Linked DNA regions of Homo sapiens. The protein of the gene in region 2 interacts with the protein of the main gene of each other region in a pairwise test. Each region holds a gene or a part of one and is shown on either strand. Other genes may lie near its edges.

Region 1 (4,730 bases), on a different chromosome or scaffold from region 2:
GGCAAAACGCTGTCTCTACTAAAAATACCAAAAGTAGCTGGGTGTGGTGGCATGCACCCGTAATCCCAGCTACTCAGGAGGCTGAGGCAGGAGAATCGCTTGAACCTGGGAGATGGAGGTTGCAGTTAGCTGAGATTGTGCCACTGCACTCCCACCTGGGCGACAGAGTGAGAGACTCTGTCTCAAGGAAAAAAAAAAAAAAAAAAGGCCAGGTGTGGTGGCTCATGCCTGTAATCCCAGCACTTTGGGAGACGGAGGCAGGTGGATCACTTCAGGTCAGGAGTTCAAGACCAGCCTGGCCAACGTGGTGAAACCCCGTCTCTACAAAAAATACAAAAAATTAGCCAGGTATGGTGGTGCACACCTGTAATCCCTGGGCAACAGAGTGAGACTCTATTTCAAGAAAAAAAAGTGTGATCTGCCTAGGTTGGAGTGCAGTGGCACAATAGTTGTTTATGCAGCCTTGACCTCCCGGACTCAAGTGATCCTCCCTCCTGTCTCCCTAGTAGCTGGGACTATAGGTATGGGCCCCACGCCTAGCTAATCTTTTAACATTTTTTGTAGAGACAAGGTCTCAGTATGTTTCCGGGGTTGTTCTTGAACTCCTGACATCAAGTGATTCTCCTACCTTGGCCTCCCAAAGTGCTGGGATTACAGTTGTGAGTCACCACACCTGGCCTGGAATCTGCATTTTTTATAAGACCCCTGGATAATTTCTTATGTGCATGAGAGCATAGGGTTGGGGGACTGAGTTTCGCTCTTGTCACCCAGGCTGGAGTGCAGTGGTGCGATCTCAGCTCACTGCAACCTCTGCCTCCCGGGTTCAAGAGATTCTCCTGCCTCAGCCTCCTGCGTAGCTGGGATTACAGGTGCCTGCCAACACGCCCAGCTAATTTTTGTTATTTTTAGTAGAGATGGGGTTTCACCATGTTGGCCAGGCTGGTCTTGAACTCCTGACCTCAGGTGATCCACCTGCCTTGGCCTCCACTGCACCTGACCTGGGGAGCTCTTAAGAATACTAATACCGGCCAGGCGCGGTGGCTCACGCCTGTAATCCCAGCACTTTGGGAGGCTGAGGCGGGCAGATCACAAGGTCAGGAGATCAAGACCATCCTGGCTAACATGGTGAAACACCATCTCTACTAAAAATACAAAAAATTAGCCAGGCGTGTTGGCGGGTGCCTGTAGTCCCAGCTACTCGGGAGGCTGAGGCAGGAGAATGGTGTGAACCCGGGAGGCAGAGCTTGCAGTGAGCCGAGATCGCGCCACTGCACTCCAGCCTGGGCAACAGAGCGAGACTGTTTCAAAAAAAAAAAAAAAAGAAAAGAAAGAAAAAGAAGAATACTAATGCCTTGGCTCTATACCCAGAATTTTTTTTTCCTTTTCCTTTTTTTTTTTTTTTTTTTTCCAGAGACAGGGTCTTACTCTGTCACCCAGAATGAAGTGCAGTGGTGTGATCCTAGCTCACTACAGTGCAGAACTCCTGGGCTCAAGGGATCCTCTCTAGTATTTGAGACTATAGTTGTGTGCCCACTTCCAGTGAATTTTTAAACATTTTTTAAAAGTGTTTATTATTATTTTATTATCTTTATTTTTGAGATTTATTTTTGTAATTCCAAAGCGCTGGGATTATGGGTGTAAGCCACCGCGCCCGGCCACCTAGGCTGGTCTTGAACTCCTGGCCTCCTCAAGTGATCCTCCCATCACAGCCTCCTGAGTAGCTGGGATTAGAGGCACTAGCCACTGCCCCAGCTATCCCCAGAAATTCTAATTTAGTTTGGCATCAATATAGTTTTAAGAGTATTCCAGATGATTTATAATGTGCAGTCAGGCATCGTCTTAAGAAAAAGAGGCATCATCAGACAGGGTGTATGCCAAAAAAAAAAAAAAAAAAGAAAAGATAATCGAATAATCTGCAGAGGGTGGTGTTTGGAGACTGGCAGCTGGGTCCCCTCTGGAGTGGCCCTGGGGAGTGACGCACAGAGGCAGCGTCCCAGAGCCATTTTGGCCCACTGCATTAATGCCCTCACCCCCTCCTGCAGGGTTGTGCAATAGCAAAGCAGCTGGGTGCAGAAATCTACCTGGAAGGCTCAGCTTTCACCTCAGAAAAGAGCATCCACAGCATCTTTCGGACGGCATCCATGCTGTGTCTGAACAAGCCTAGCCCACTGCCCCAGAAGAGCCCTGTCCGAAGCCTCTCCAAACGACTGCTCCACCTCCCCAGTCGCTCTGAACTCATCTCTTCTACCTTCAAGAAGGAAAAGGCCAAAAGCTGTTCCATTATGTGAAGTGGAAATTGGAGGGGGGAGACAACCCCCTACTTCCTCCCTTGGGGTGCAGAGGCACGGGGAGAGGGAGGATGAGACAATTTAGGACACTGGACATGAGTTTTTCAGATGGCCACGGTGAGGGCTTGGAAGGAGACAGGAATGGGGCGAGGAAGGAGCCAGGCCCGGCATGAGGACCTGACGCTGAGAGAGAACCATCATACCCCAAGCCAGGCACTAGATTTTGGAGGGGGCGACTACCCCAGTGCCCCCCCCGCTCCAGAGGAAGGAAAGCTGTGGGGGACGGGGGGCATGCTGGCCTCATGGGCTTGGGGGCCTACAGCAGCCTCACCTTCAGCTTCATGCCTCTTCCACACAGCGTTTCCATGCAGGTCAGGGGATGGGAGGGGTCCCTGAGCCCTTCCCTTCCCCTCTAAGGAGGCAGCAACGGAGAGTGGGGAAGTGGAGCGGCAGCTCCCTTGGGGGCTTAGCCCAGGTGCTTCGTAACTGCAATCGGAAGTGCAGGAGCTGGTCAGAGCCAATGAGAAGGAAACCTCATCTTTGCATAGCCCATGCCTCATGGAGAGGTGACATCATACATTCACATGCTTCTCACCTAAGTCCCCAGGGTCCAAGGGAGAAGCCCCAGACCCCCTTCTCTTGCAGAGTGTGGGGGTGGTGGTGCTGCAGGGGCAGGGCTGGGTGGGGGTCACCAGACTTTTTCTGCCCTTAGGGTAGTACAGCTGGCATTTGTTTTATAGACTCTTGTCTTTGGAATTGGGGGGAGGGGGGGAGTGTTTCAATCTGTTATATGTTCTGTGTTTAATGAAGAAAACCTATTTATTAATGAAAAATATAATACATATAAAGAATTTGGCTCCGTATTTTTTTCTGTTTTCTTTAGTTGTTACAATTGGTATTTTTTTTTTTTGGTCTTTTTTTTTTTTCCTTTTTGTGGAGAACAGGGTCTCGCTATATTGCTCAGGCAGGTCTCAAACTCCTGGGCTCAAGCTATCCTCACATCTCTGCCTCCCTAAGAGCTGGGATTACAGGCATGAGCCACCGTGCTTGAGCCCTTTGGTTGATGATAATGAGAGAAAAGCTGTCCTGGGACCCTTTCTGTGGGTTGCAGAGGGGCTGCCTCCACCATTCCCCAGCTCCTCCAAGAAGGAGCTTCTCTCTTCCCCCATCCCCCTGCCCTAGCCCCACCCAAGACCTACTAAACCAAGGAAGGGCTCCTTAGCCCGAGAGCAGGGGTGCAGGGGTTCTCAACCCTGGAACTATTGACATTTTGGACTGGATAATGCTTTGTTGTGAGGGACTGTCCTATGCAGCCCAAGATGTTTAGCAGTGTCCCTGATCTGGTGGATGCTAGAAGACAGCACCCCACTCTCCAGCTATCACACCCAAAAATGTCTCCAGACGTTGCTAAATGGCCCCTGTGGAAAAATTCTGGTTGAGAACCACTGCCCTGGAGAGTCTAGAGGAGAGAAAAAGGTTGGATGAAATCATCAGTAGAGGATCCAAGCTGCTGAGATTCCACCCCACATAGAAGGTGGACAGACTAAGCCAAAGCTGGGGGAGGCTCCTGGGATTCTGGTCTCCTCTGAGTTCAAGGAGAGGTGACATTTGCCTTCATGACCTTCCAATTCCGATGCCTACTGATGGCAGCTCAGGGGCCTTAACTCTTAACTTCCTTTCTCAGTGACTTATAGCTCTTGTTTTCCAAGTGCCATAGTGTAGTGCTAGTGCCAGAAATAAAGTTAGCATGTACTAGGCCAGGCGCGGTGGCTCAAGCCTGTAATCCCAGAACTTTGGGAGGCTGAGGCAGGTGGATCACAAGGTCGGGAGATCGAGACCATCCTGGCTAACACGGTGAAACCCCATCTCTACTAAAATACAAAAATTAGCCGGGCATGGTGGCACGTGCCTGTAATCCCAACTACTCGGGAGGCTGAGGCAGGAGAATCGCTTAAACCCGGGAGGCAGAGGTTGCAGTGAGCCAAGATTGCGCCACTGCACTCCAACCTGGGCAAAAGAGGGAGACTCCATCTCTAAATAAATAAATAAATAAATAAAGTTAGCATGTACTTAATGAGTGTTCAGCACTGTGCACTGTGTTGAGGGCTTTACATGATCACATTTAGACTCATAAATGATAAGAGCTAACATTTGTTAAATGTTTACTATGGGTCGGGGCACTTACGAGATTTTTCTTTTTTTTTTTTTGAGACAGGGTCTCACTCTGTCGCCCACGCTGGAGTACAGTGGCATGACCACTGCTCACTGCAACCTCACCCTCCTGGTTCACCGTCCTGATCACCCTCCTGACCCTCCTACCTCAGCCTCCTGGGTAGCTAGGACTACAGGAGTACCACAGTAGTAGTCTATTTTTTGTGGAGATGGGGTTTCACCATGTTGCCCAGGCTGGTCTTGAACTTCTGGGCTCAAGTGATCCTCCTG
Region 2 (5,712 bases):
TGCGCAGGCTGTGCTGCCGCTCCTCCTTCTGCTCCTCCTCCTGCCGGTGCTCCAGCCTGTGAACCTCCATGGCCTGGGGGGGCCGGGGGTCCCCCGCACCTCCCAAGCTGTGCGGCAGAGTCATGGTTACGAGAGCAACAACCTGTGAAGGCCAAGGTCCACGGTCATTCCACCAGGTGCCCGCCTATCCCCTCCCATGCAGTCTTCCCAACATCTCTAGGAGGCTGGCAGGATGGGGGGTGGGGGTGTCCTCTCTGCAGTCGGCAGACAGGGAAACTGAGGTCTGAGAGGGAGAGGGACCTGCCCAAGGTGACAGAGGCAGGCCTTGGGCTCTGAGCCAGGCTTCTCCTCCACCCCATGTGCTCCCCAGCTGAGTGAGCAGAGCCCCCACGTTAGGGAGCAGGGCCCTGGCTTCTAGCTGCTTCCAGCTGCAGCCCAGCCCTTGTCTCACTGTATGATCTGTGGCAAGGTTTTCGCTTCTATGGGCCTCAGCTCCCCAGACAATGAGTAATTGAAACTGTGATGTCCACGGCTGTGTCTATGACTCAGGACGGGCAGGCGTCCCCATTCTTCCTGCACCGGCCATGTTCAGTCCTACCTCTGGGCCTTTGCCCACGCTGGTTTCCTCTCCCGGCACACCCTTCCCCTCCTCCTGGCCCGCTTGGCTCTAGTCATGCTTCAAACCCCAACTGAGGGCATGCTAATTAGCAGAGAGACTCTGAGTCCAGCCCACAGGGTGTGATCCCAGCTCCTTATCCCAGCTTTCAAGTGTGTAACCTTGGGAAAGACTCATGACTTTGTTTCCTCATCTGTAAAATGGGTCTACTAACCTCCCAGGGTAGTTGTGAAGGTTAGATGAGTGCTTGGGGCTTAGTAAGTACAACATAAGTATTAGGCATTAGCATTATTTTTCTAAGAAGCCTTGCAGAAAGACTACAGGCCACCTAGAATTTTCCCTCTTCTCATTTCTTTTGTACTTATTTTCTAGCACTCCACAATTTAGCATTGATTCAGACAATGCTTTCTCTATGTAATTATTTTGTATCTGTGCATCTTGACTGTTCAACAAGACTGTAAGTGAATTAAAAGTAACAATAGTGAGAACTTACTATGTTCCATGCCCATGTTAGTTTTCAAATGCATTATCCCCAGTCCCTGCAATAACCCAAATGAGGACAGCACCATTATTATCCCATTTTACTGATGAACAGGGGCAGTACTTGCTCAAGGTCACCCAGCATGATGGTGGGGCCATGACTGGCAGCCAATCCCTAGCCCAACCCCTAGCCCTTCTGATCTCTATGTCATATGTCCATTCAAGGCCAGGCCGTGGCAGAGGCTGGGGACACGGTGGGCCACAGGGCCTTTCTCCTTATAAGGGGATTGCAATGTACACATCTCCTTTGCATTCCCAAGGCTCAAGTCTAGGCCCGTGATGGCGCCCAGTGGGGCCGGATCAGATTGACCCAGGGGAGGCTCAGGAAGCGGATCCATGGATATGGAGAGGCAAACGAGGGGTGTGGGAGGCCCGTGTGCCCGCTGGCTGTGGGTTTTTGCACTGAGTTTTCTCATATCCGGGCTTCAGTCACTGCTGGGTCTCTGAGGGCCCCCCTGATGCTAAAGCTAAAATCCCTGGAATGGCTTTCACACCTCCTCCAGGTGGGAATCCTGGTCTGCAGGCTTCTGGCATGGGAGGGTTCCTGCCCAGGCGTGGGGATGGAAACAGAAGAGGGATGACCGCCTGCCTTGGCCTGCTCCTGTCAGCTTCTGTGGGGTCAGCTCTGTCTGGCCCCTGCCTCTCTAGAGGGTCCTGCTGGAGGTGGCAGCGTGTGTGTGTGTGGGCGTGCATGTGTGTGTATGTGTGTGTGTGCGTGCATGTGTAGGCTGTCTTCTGCCTGGATGTGAACACAGCACCTAGGTGACCATTTCTCTAAGTCCATGGCATGGAAGGTGAGCCCACTGGCTTTATTGGAGAGCCGTTGGCCTGGAAGGGGCATGTGGTGGAGGTGTCTGGGGCTCGGGCTGTGGAGGGTCAGTCTTAGTGGGCTTTTACCCCTTCTACTTCCTAGAAGTTTGCTCCTTTTGGGTGTCTGCAGTTGTGGGCATCAGGAAAAAGAGAATGGATGGCTGCAGGGTTAGCTGGGACCAAGGGCTGCCCCCTAAAGCTCCCTGGGCTCCTGCTAATCATCTCAAATGACATAATGGGACAGTCACCCTCTTTGGCTTCGTATCACTCCCTCCCGATGGAAGAAGTTCTCTTTGCACCCAAAGAAGTGGCTAGCCCTGCTCATTCTGCTCTTTCTTCCTCATGGCCCAGGAGGAGAGCTGCTGGGTACCACCCTAGGTGGAGCAAGGACCCCCCACTCTGCCCCAGCTTTCCTGGGACACGATGGCCCTGGCTCCAGTGGCTGAGAGTTAACATTCCCTGGCACCAGCCACTGGCTCCCTTCCCCTGGATGCTCTGTTCCCGATTAGCACAGCAGGCAGGGGCCTGGCGCTCGTCCCTGACCTCGGGGCCTCCAGCAACCAGACCCCTGGCTTTAGCGGATGAGCTACCAATTCTTTTTAAAGCACTGACTGATGCGTGGTATTAAGCAGGGACAAGTTTGCGGCCTCACTGCCCTTTCCCAAAGGACCAGGGTGCCTCTTCCCGGAACACTGTGTGTGCCTGCGTGGAGGGGAAACTGCCCCCGCTTCCCTCTCTTGGGGTGCAAAAATCTGGGCCAGAGGTCCCACTGCGTGGCCTTCCCTATTCCCCTCTGCTTTCCTCCCAAGCCTCCATCTGCCGAGGAGGCCTCTCCCCTTCTTCAGGAGGGAAAGAGGAATGCACAGCAGTTGAGCCAAGACCCCTCCAGGAGCTGCGATGGGGGCGGATGGTGGCTGGGAGCAGAGACACATCCTGCGGGCGGCGGGTGGCACAGGCTGGGACGTGTTCTTAGCCAGTGGCTCCACCAGCTTCCGCGAGGCCGAATCCTGCCCTTGCCAGTCATGAGCTGAGGCAACTCCTTTCCCGTCTGGGCCTCGGTTTCCTGTCAGGCACTGGATGAAATCCCTTCCAGCTCTAAGATTTGGGATCCGAGGGCTCGCTCTCTTTCCCTGCCTGTGGGGTTGGCCAAGCCGGGCTCAGCCAGCTCCGCTCTAAGTTCGTGGAACTTGCCAGCTTAGCCTGGCTCCCGCTTATCGCTGCTCCATCACAGGAAAGACTCCAGTTCCCAGGGCAGCCCCCACTCTTTTTTTTTTTTTTGCAACTTTCACATCACAGACAGCTCAGCTCTCAGAAGACCCAGGGCCACACAGAACAGTGGGATGGGGCAGGGGTTTCTGGAATCCCCTCCCATTTTCACTTGGGTGCTGCCTCAGCACAAATTTCCCAGGCTCCTTTCACAACACACAACACACATACACACAAACACACACACGTGCACACACACACACACATGCACCCACAGATATCACTCCCCAGTGGCTGACTCTTAGGAGGCATCCCTCCCCCACCCTGATTTCTGGGGGTGACTCACAGAAGCAGTGTGCCCACTTAGGAGTCTCTGGGGAGAAGATTCCTGAGGCCGAGAGGGTCCTTGTTCTCTTCTTGCCCTCGGCTCAGCGGGCACCGGGAGAAGAATGCGATCCCGGAGACTGCACCGTCTTAAATATAGCAGCACTGAGACAGTACAATGACAATGGATGAGAACTATGGCATCGGGGACAGGGGGCCAAGGGGAGGGGCCATTCCGTGTCTCCAGCCTGCTGGGCAGCAGCGACAGGTGGAGCTGTCCGCCGCGTCCCCCCACACTGCTCCTCCTCTCAGCTGGGTCCTTTCTGCCCAACCCAAGCCCCTGTTAAAATGGAAAGGAGGGAACGGCTCAGGCATGGTCGTATGGAGGGCAGATCCCGTGCGGCGTTCTCAGCTGTCGGGAGTTCTGATCTGAATTCTGCCCCGGCTGACTGGGTGCCCTGGGGAAGGCGCTCAGCTTCCCTGAACTGACTGCCTTCTGAAAAACGGAGACAGTGAGACTGGGCACCTGGACTTCATGAAGACGGTGGAAGGAATATGACCTAAAAGTGAGTGTTTCGTGCTCAGAAGTTGTCACTGGCTAAAACAGCAATGTGTGGCTCCTGGTCCCTCCACCACTCCGGTAGTTACTACACGGCCCCCGCCCTGACCACAGTCATGTGTGTGTGGTGTGGTGCAGGCAGGAGGAGCTGGGGAGCCACCTACTGCTTCACTGTGCAAACTGCTCAGGCTGCCAGAGTGTCCCCTGAAGGGCCTTCTTATAGGGTAAACGCACCTGACAGGGATAACTGAAGCACGCTCCAAGAATGACCCTGTGTGGAAGACCTGAATATGTGTTCCGAGCTAAGGAATCTGGGGAGTAGCCAACCCGTTTCTTACCTACGATGAATATCTGAGCCCCCGTCCCGTCCCTTCTGGTGGAACGCTGGCCATACAGGGGATTGAGGCCCTGAGTTTTGGGTTAAATGAAGATTGCCAGGTGGAGGTCATTAGGGGATGGTGTAAAGTGAAAATGCTCTATAAACTGCATGCTGTTTGCAAGGGGCTGAGGTTTTCCTGCCCAGTCGGCCGCCACTGGTATGTTGTCCAGCCCGCCGCCCCTGGACCATTTCTGTATGTAAGGCGGTTCTCCTGTCCAGTTCATCACCAGTGGACTCTCTCTCCTGTAGGCAAGCCCCTAACAAACCCCCACGTTCCTTCCTTTCCTTCCTTCCCTTCCTTCTCTCCCTTTCTTTTTCTTTCTTTCTTTCTTTCTTTCTTTCTTTCTTTCTTTCTTTCTTTCTTTCTTTCTTTCTTTCTTTCTTTCTTTCTTCTTTCTCTTTCCTTCCTTCCTTCCTTCTTTCCTTCTTTCCCTCCCCCCCTCCTTCCTTCCTTCCTTCCTTCTCTCTCTCTTTCTTTCTTTCTTTCTTTCCTTCTTTCCTTCTTTCTTTCCTTCTTGAGTCAGAGTCTCACTTTGTTGTCCAGGCTGGAGTGCAGTGGCATGATCTCAGCTCACTGCAACCTCCGCCTCCTGAAACCCCCATGTTCCGTTTGCTGGCTATGGATCTTTTCTTTGGCCTCTCAAACCTGGTGCCTTCCCTACTGAGGTTAATAGGTGTTCGGCACCACACCTCTTCCCACCCTTTGCCCTCTCCTGCCATTCCCTCAGTCTCAATTCTTTCCCCCTCACATTCATTGGCACCTACCCTATGCCAGACCCTAACCTACAGGGGAAGTCAGGCACTTACGACAGGAGGTGATCAGGAAGGTGCACCTGGGTCGAGTCTCAGAGGATGAGCCGGTGAGGGGAAGGCTGTACCGGCCCCTAGCCAGAGAGCACAGCTTCCCTCCCTCACCCCTTCCTGCGACCTCAGGTGGCCACCCACACTACACCTGTCACTCTTGCTGGTGCCTCAGGGACTCCTCACTCGAGAGAAGGAGAGAGAGAGCACAAGTGAACTTTGCAGGCAAAATCTGAATCCCCTGCCCTATTTGAAAACCCCTTTCTAAGCTCTTCTGTGGCTCTCTCTTACAGCATCTTTTGGGAGAGAACATTTCTCTCCCATCTTCTATTGACCCAATCGAACAAGGGCTTTCCAAGACTCATCTTCATACATTTGCTGTGAGGGATGAGTGTGAGTGAATCCGTACGAACAGCAAAGAGGGCTTTGAGCTTCCAACTGAGCAGGAGACAGTCATTTAAACAGGTCCTCTAGCCC
Region 3 (5,117 bases), on a different chromosome or scaffold from region 2:
GGTGTCGGGCAGGAGACAATCTAGTGGATGGTGGAGATTGTAGCAAGGGCAAGGACCCCCCAGAGGTCAGAGAAGAAGTAGGGCTGTGAGGCTGCGAGTTCCTGGCTGACAATGGCAATGAGATGTCCTGCGCTGGCCTGTAAAACATGAAGGGCAGGTGCGGGTTAATTTCTCTCCTAAGGCACTGGGGGAGAAGGGCACACAAAAGTGAGATGAGGAGGCTTCTGATGCCCCCAGGACACCTGCAAAATGAAGAGCAGGCAGGGTCTGACTATGGGGAAGTCTAACCCTGCCTGCTCTATCTCTGCAAAGACCACAGCCCTTTTCCAGCCTGACCTTCTGTGCCTCTGCCTGACAAACAGAGGTGTGATCCCATGAGGGTCAGAACCAGACAACTTCCATGGTCACTTTGTGAAAATCGTAGTGATACACACCTGTACACCCGTTTGCTCAAGTCTAAACATTTCAAACGATTCTTCTACAAGGTAATTTTCATCTCATTATTTTAAATTAAACCTTTTCTGACATTATACACGTGGTCCAGCACACATAAAGATCCTAGTTTAGAAACTATGTTCCATTTGCCAGGATGGAAACAACAAACAGCCATAAAAACCACCCCCATCTTGCTATCTGCAACTCCCTTTAGTAATTCATACATTCACAAAAAAAAAGAAAAAAAACTATTCAAGGATTGGTAGATACTTATATTAGAGACACTAAATGATTATTGTTGCTTCCAGTTGTTAACGATTTAATGATTCCCATTAGCAGTAACCATAAAAAGACTTGAAGAGGGTTACAAGCAATGCTAACATACTATTTTTGATGTAATGAATCGCAAAATGTAAGAACTGGAAAGGCCTTAAAAGAAAATTATTTAGTTCAACTCTATCACTGGACAGATGGGGAATGAGGTCCAGAAAGGGGAAGTCATCTGCCAAATATTAGAGTGGTGGTGCCAAGATAGAATCCTTCTTTCCCAATTCCCATTTTCTGGCTTTTTCTACTGCCATAATGCATTGATTTCTGTGCACTGATACTTAGATTTCCAACCTATTGCTCATAGAAAGTTCCAGAAAGAGACCTTTGGTACATTGTTTAATGTGGCTCTCCCATTTTTGTACCTAATTACCAGGTACAAAATGCTAACACCTAAGTATAAATAATTCATACCTAATGACTATTAGCCATTAAGGGAAACAATTAGTATGTGGATGGATCACTTCCACCATCACCACTACCAGGAATAGTATCTGTCAGTGTGCACTGAAGACAAAAAGCTTGTTCATGCCCTAGCTCATGCCCAATTAACCTCATATGCTCCCATGTCCTGTGGACACTTGTTCTACAGTTGATATTTCTCAATCCAGGGAAGACAGATGGCTAAGTGCATGGGATCTGGATCCCAACAGAGGGAGTCTGGAGACCTCTTCTACTGCTCACGAGCTGTGTAACTTGGTGCAAGTTACTTAATCTGCATGAGCCCATTTTATTCTTGAGGTCACAAATAAATTGCAAAAATACTGGGGTCTTCTCATTTTTGGCGGAATAGGAATTACAGTCACTTCTCTACCTCCCAGTGAGATAAGCTGACCTTGTTAGCTTGTTACTTAAAGGATATCCATTTAATCTTTGCAATAAATTGCATAAAATTCATGGTGGAACTGGGACAAATCACCAGGAGCAATTAACTTTTAACTGGCATTCCAGATGCTAAAGCACATTCCTCAGACACACACTCCAGTTACCATTACTGTTCATGTATCCATCTTTACAAGAGATCTTAACTATAAGGGCTTTTTACAGCTACAAAATCATTCCAAACACTTTCTCATGGATACCCAATAACCTACATCTTCCCCAAGAGTCCTCAAACCTGTACAAACCCTGGATTCTGTCGCTCAGGCCCATCTATGCCTCTGGTGTACCCACATTCTTCCAATCACATACATCTGTCATTATAAATAATTGCTGAATATTGAAGAGGGCATGCGAACTATTTGGGCAAAGAAGAATTGACATGGTACTCATAAGTACAACTGGAAAGTTGCTGCCATACATAATATTTTTCCCCAGAGCTCAAAGCACTCATTCAATCAAAAGCCTGGGAGTTATTTATACATTTATTTGGTGAAGAGCTCCTATTTTCCATTCTATGGATCTTCAGTTTCCTCACAGGTAAAAGACTAAGTGCTCTTTTTTCTCTTTGAATGAGAGCTATTACAATTTCTACATGCCTACAGAGTTAAAATATAATGTCCTGAGATTTGTTGGGGCTTGTGTGTCTCTTTTCTGCTTTGTGGGCAGAAAAGAGGGGCTTAAGTTTCATGTTCTCCAATGCAGCTCTCAAATTTTAAGGGAAAAAAATCACTATATTAACCTTCATTTTTGTTCCCAGGATTTGCAGTCCAAGGCCTGGGAGGTATTCTCTTTTAAAGACTGAACGCCCAGTTCTGAAATGGGCTTTCTCTCCACAGCTCCCCTGGGCCTCATCAAGCAACCCAGGCCTCTCTCTCAAACAAACTCAGCCACTGGCCTCCCTCCTGCCTGGAGACTGAAAGGCCCCTGCATTCCCTGGACAACAGCACATGGCCTTCCAGGGACCTTGGGAAGGAGGAGACCATGAGGTCTCCAGAAGGAGGTCTCTGGGGTCAGATAAGCTGAGGATGAAGATAAGCAGAGACAAGGCAGCTGCCCCTCAATTCCCCAGGCTGGAAAAGGAAGCAGATCTCAGTGCACCGTGATGTTGGGAAAACCAAGGCAGCCCGTCACTGGCTGGTTTGCAAACCAGCAATGGCTTGGGCAGTCACAAAGGGAGAGAAAGCCCTTCAGTGAAGAACTCAATCTGGGCTCCAGCATCCACCCACCAGGGGAAAGCAGGACGGAATGAACACTGGGGTGAAGCTCCCCGTGAGAAAAAGAGATTAAGGAATGACGGGGTAAGGGAGAGTTGGAGGGGGCGGATGTCAGAGGAAGCCAAAATACACCCCAAGTTAAATAATAACAGTAAAAGTAATGACAGTAATAATAAAGGTGGCAGCCATGTGAGCAGCACACTCTCCAGGTCCTTCCAGCACACAGCAGCCTGAATCGCTCCCCACTGACACGTTAACCAGGAACAACAAGCCGCCTGCAGACAACAGAATCACATGATTCCATGCAAGCCCTGACCTGCCTCCTGCCACTTCCGTCCCCTCATCCTGCTCCTTCCTAAGGCTACCTGGGCCACTGGGGCTCTGCAGAAAAGGGGACATAGCATACATGCAGGACAAAGGCCAGTGACTAAAATCAGGATCCTCCCCAAAGCTGGGAAGTGGGGTAGGGTGGGGGGTACACTCCTCCCAGAGACAGTAGTAAGGACTCAAAGGGAAAGTAAAAGCCACTCTACCCAGCTGACACAGCACCTTCCACCCTGCCACCTCGATGACTGGGAGCCCTCACCCTCCCCAGCCACACACACATGCACACATGTGCATGCACACACACACTCCACACTCCTGGCACACACATGTGCAATCCTGCACACACACTCTCACCAGAGCAGGTGCCACCCAATAGCCTGGAACTTGATTGATCCTCACCACAGAAACTGCCTTTCCCAGGCTCTGCAATGGTGAATCGGTGAATCTGTGAATCCTGGAGCAGGCTGCAAATTCCTGATGGTTTCTCTTGCACAACCAGCTCTGCTCTGAACTACAGAGTTAGGTCACCCTTAGATTCCACTAAACAAGGATTTCAAGAAACCTCAGATCTGGGCATGATTTCAACAATTGAAAGGAGGTGGCTGCTTTATAAACAGAAATGATTTAATTTTTAAAAGCAGTTGATAAATGTATAAACCCAGGATGCAGAAAAGGTTCAGCACTTAGAAAGACAAAGATTCTGAAATTTTAAAATTATTCAGATAGCCTTTGCCTTGTTTCTCATCTGGGGTTCTGGGCATTCAAGGTATTTATTTTTTAAGGGGAGGAGGGCATAAGAAAGATGAAGTAATAAAAGGATTGTTTATAATTTTGTTCATTTTAACAGCAAATCTCCAGCAGTTCACTGCACCTCGAAAAGCAAGCAAATGTTTTCTTAACAGCAATTTGTTCAAAGAGTTTGCTTTGCATCCTGACTTGTAATTTGTGGATTAAGGGCTCAGAATGTAGTCTTCTAATTGGTTGCTGCTAGCAGCAGTTACTTGGAAAGGTACTCACAAACTGTATAGCTAGTTGGTTAAAGGAAATAAAGGAGGGAAAATGTGTCACCACCTTAAAGCAGTACACTTCTGGAAAGCAGTTCAACTACCTCCTTTTGCCAGTAATTTGTCAATAGGTGCCACTCCCTCATGTAGGGCCCTGCAACAATTTTACGGCCAGTATTTGCCTGATGCAGACCCAAATTTCATATGGAGCATCCTCCCACTAGGGCCATTTTAGGTTTGCTTATTCATCAAGCATTATCAAGCACTCTGCTCCTTTCCCATAGAGAAAAACCTGTTACAGCAAAACTGTGTATTAAAATGCTGCTCAACAAGGGTAGATCATCATGGGCTCTGTTGCTTTTGAGGACAGAAAGAAAGAGAAATCCACAGATAACTTAGGTGGGAGGATAAAAAATATGTATCTTCCTGTAAAATACATGCAGCTAAATTTCTCCGGTGGTTTAATCAGGATGGGAAGAAAAGGAAAAAAAAAGAAAACCTCTTTGGGCTCCTCATTATTTATTTAGGCAGATCAAAGGGCAGATAATTTTCCATCTAGCTTCAAACACTGTGGGAGTCATTTCAGATCACAAACAATACTGGTGAATGAGTTCTGAAAATAGCTTTCCTGGGAAGGCGGGCTGTGTGCTGAGTGGGGCTGTGGCTTCTGCTCCACACCCCAGCCAACACACTCCCCTCCCACAAGGCAACAGACATCAGCCCATCAACAGACTCTTCCATACTGATGGGAAAAGCAAAATAAAAACCCCCAGCTTCATTGATATTTTGCTGGCTTGAATGGGTTTCCACTAAGTGAGGCAGTCTTGAACAGACCAACCCCTCCCTGGGTCTTCTGTTTCATTGGTCAGATGGGAATCTGGTTCTTGATCTCTTTTAAACCTGAGTAGCCTTGTTGGTTACCCCATTT

Evidence for each region.
Region 1: the proteins of MYOM3 (region 2) and RND1 interact in a two-hybrid assay, tested with the Homo sapiens proteins (one large-scale study listed by BioGRID).
Region 3: the proteins of MYOM3 (region 2) and AMOT interact in a two-hybrid assay, tested with the Homo sapiens proteins (one large-scale study listed by BioGRID and IntAct).

Annotation. Positions count from the first base shown.
Region 1 is NC_000012.12:48,855,554-48,860,283, reverse strand, and holds the end of RND1 (rho-related GTP-binding protein Rho6 precursor), read left to right. Parts: intron 1-2,042; coding exon 2,043-2,288; 3' UTR 2,289-3,139; downstream 3,140-4,730. UniProt on the Homo sapiens protein: Lacks intrinsic GTPase activity. Has a low affinity for GDP, and constitutively binds GTP. Controls rearrangements of the actin cytoskeleton. Induces the Rac-dependent neuritic process formation in part by disruption of the cortical actin filaments.
Region 2 is NC_000001.11:24,108,513-24,114,224, forward strand, and holds the start of MYOM3 (myomesin-3), read right to left. Parts: upstream 3,624-5,712; 5' UTR 3,519-3,623; intron 143-3,518; 5' UTR 125-142; coding exon 1-124. UniProt on the Homo sapiens protein: May link the intermediate filament cytoskeleton to the M-disk of the myofibrils in striated muscle.
Region 3 is NC_000023.11:112,815,741-112,820,857, forward strand, and holds part of AMOT (angiomotin), read right to left. Parts: intron 3,699-5,117; exon of another isoform or gene 3,585-3,698; intron 138-3,584; coding exon 1-137.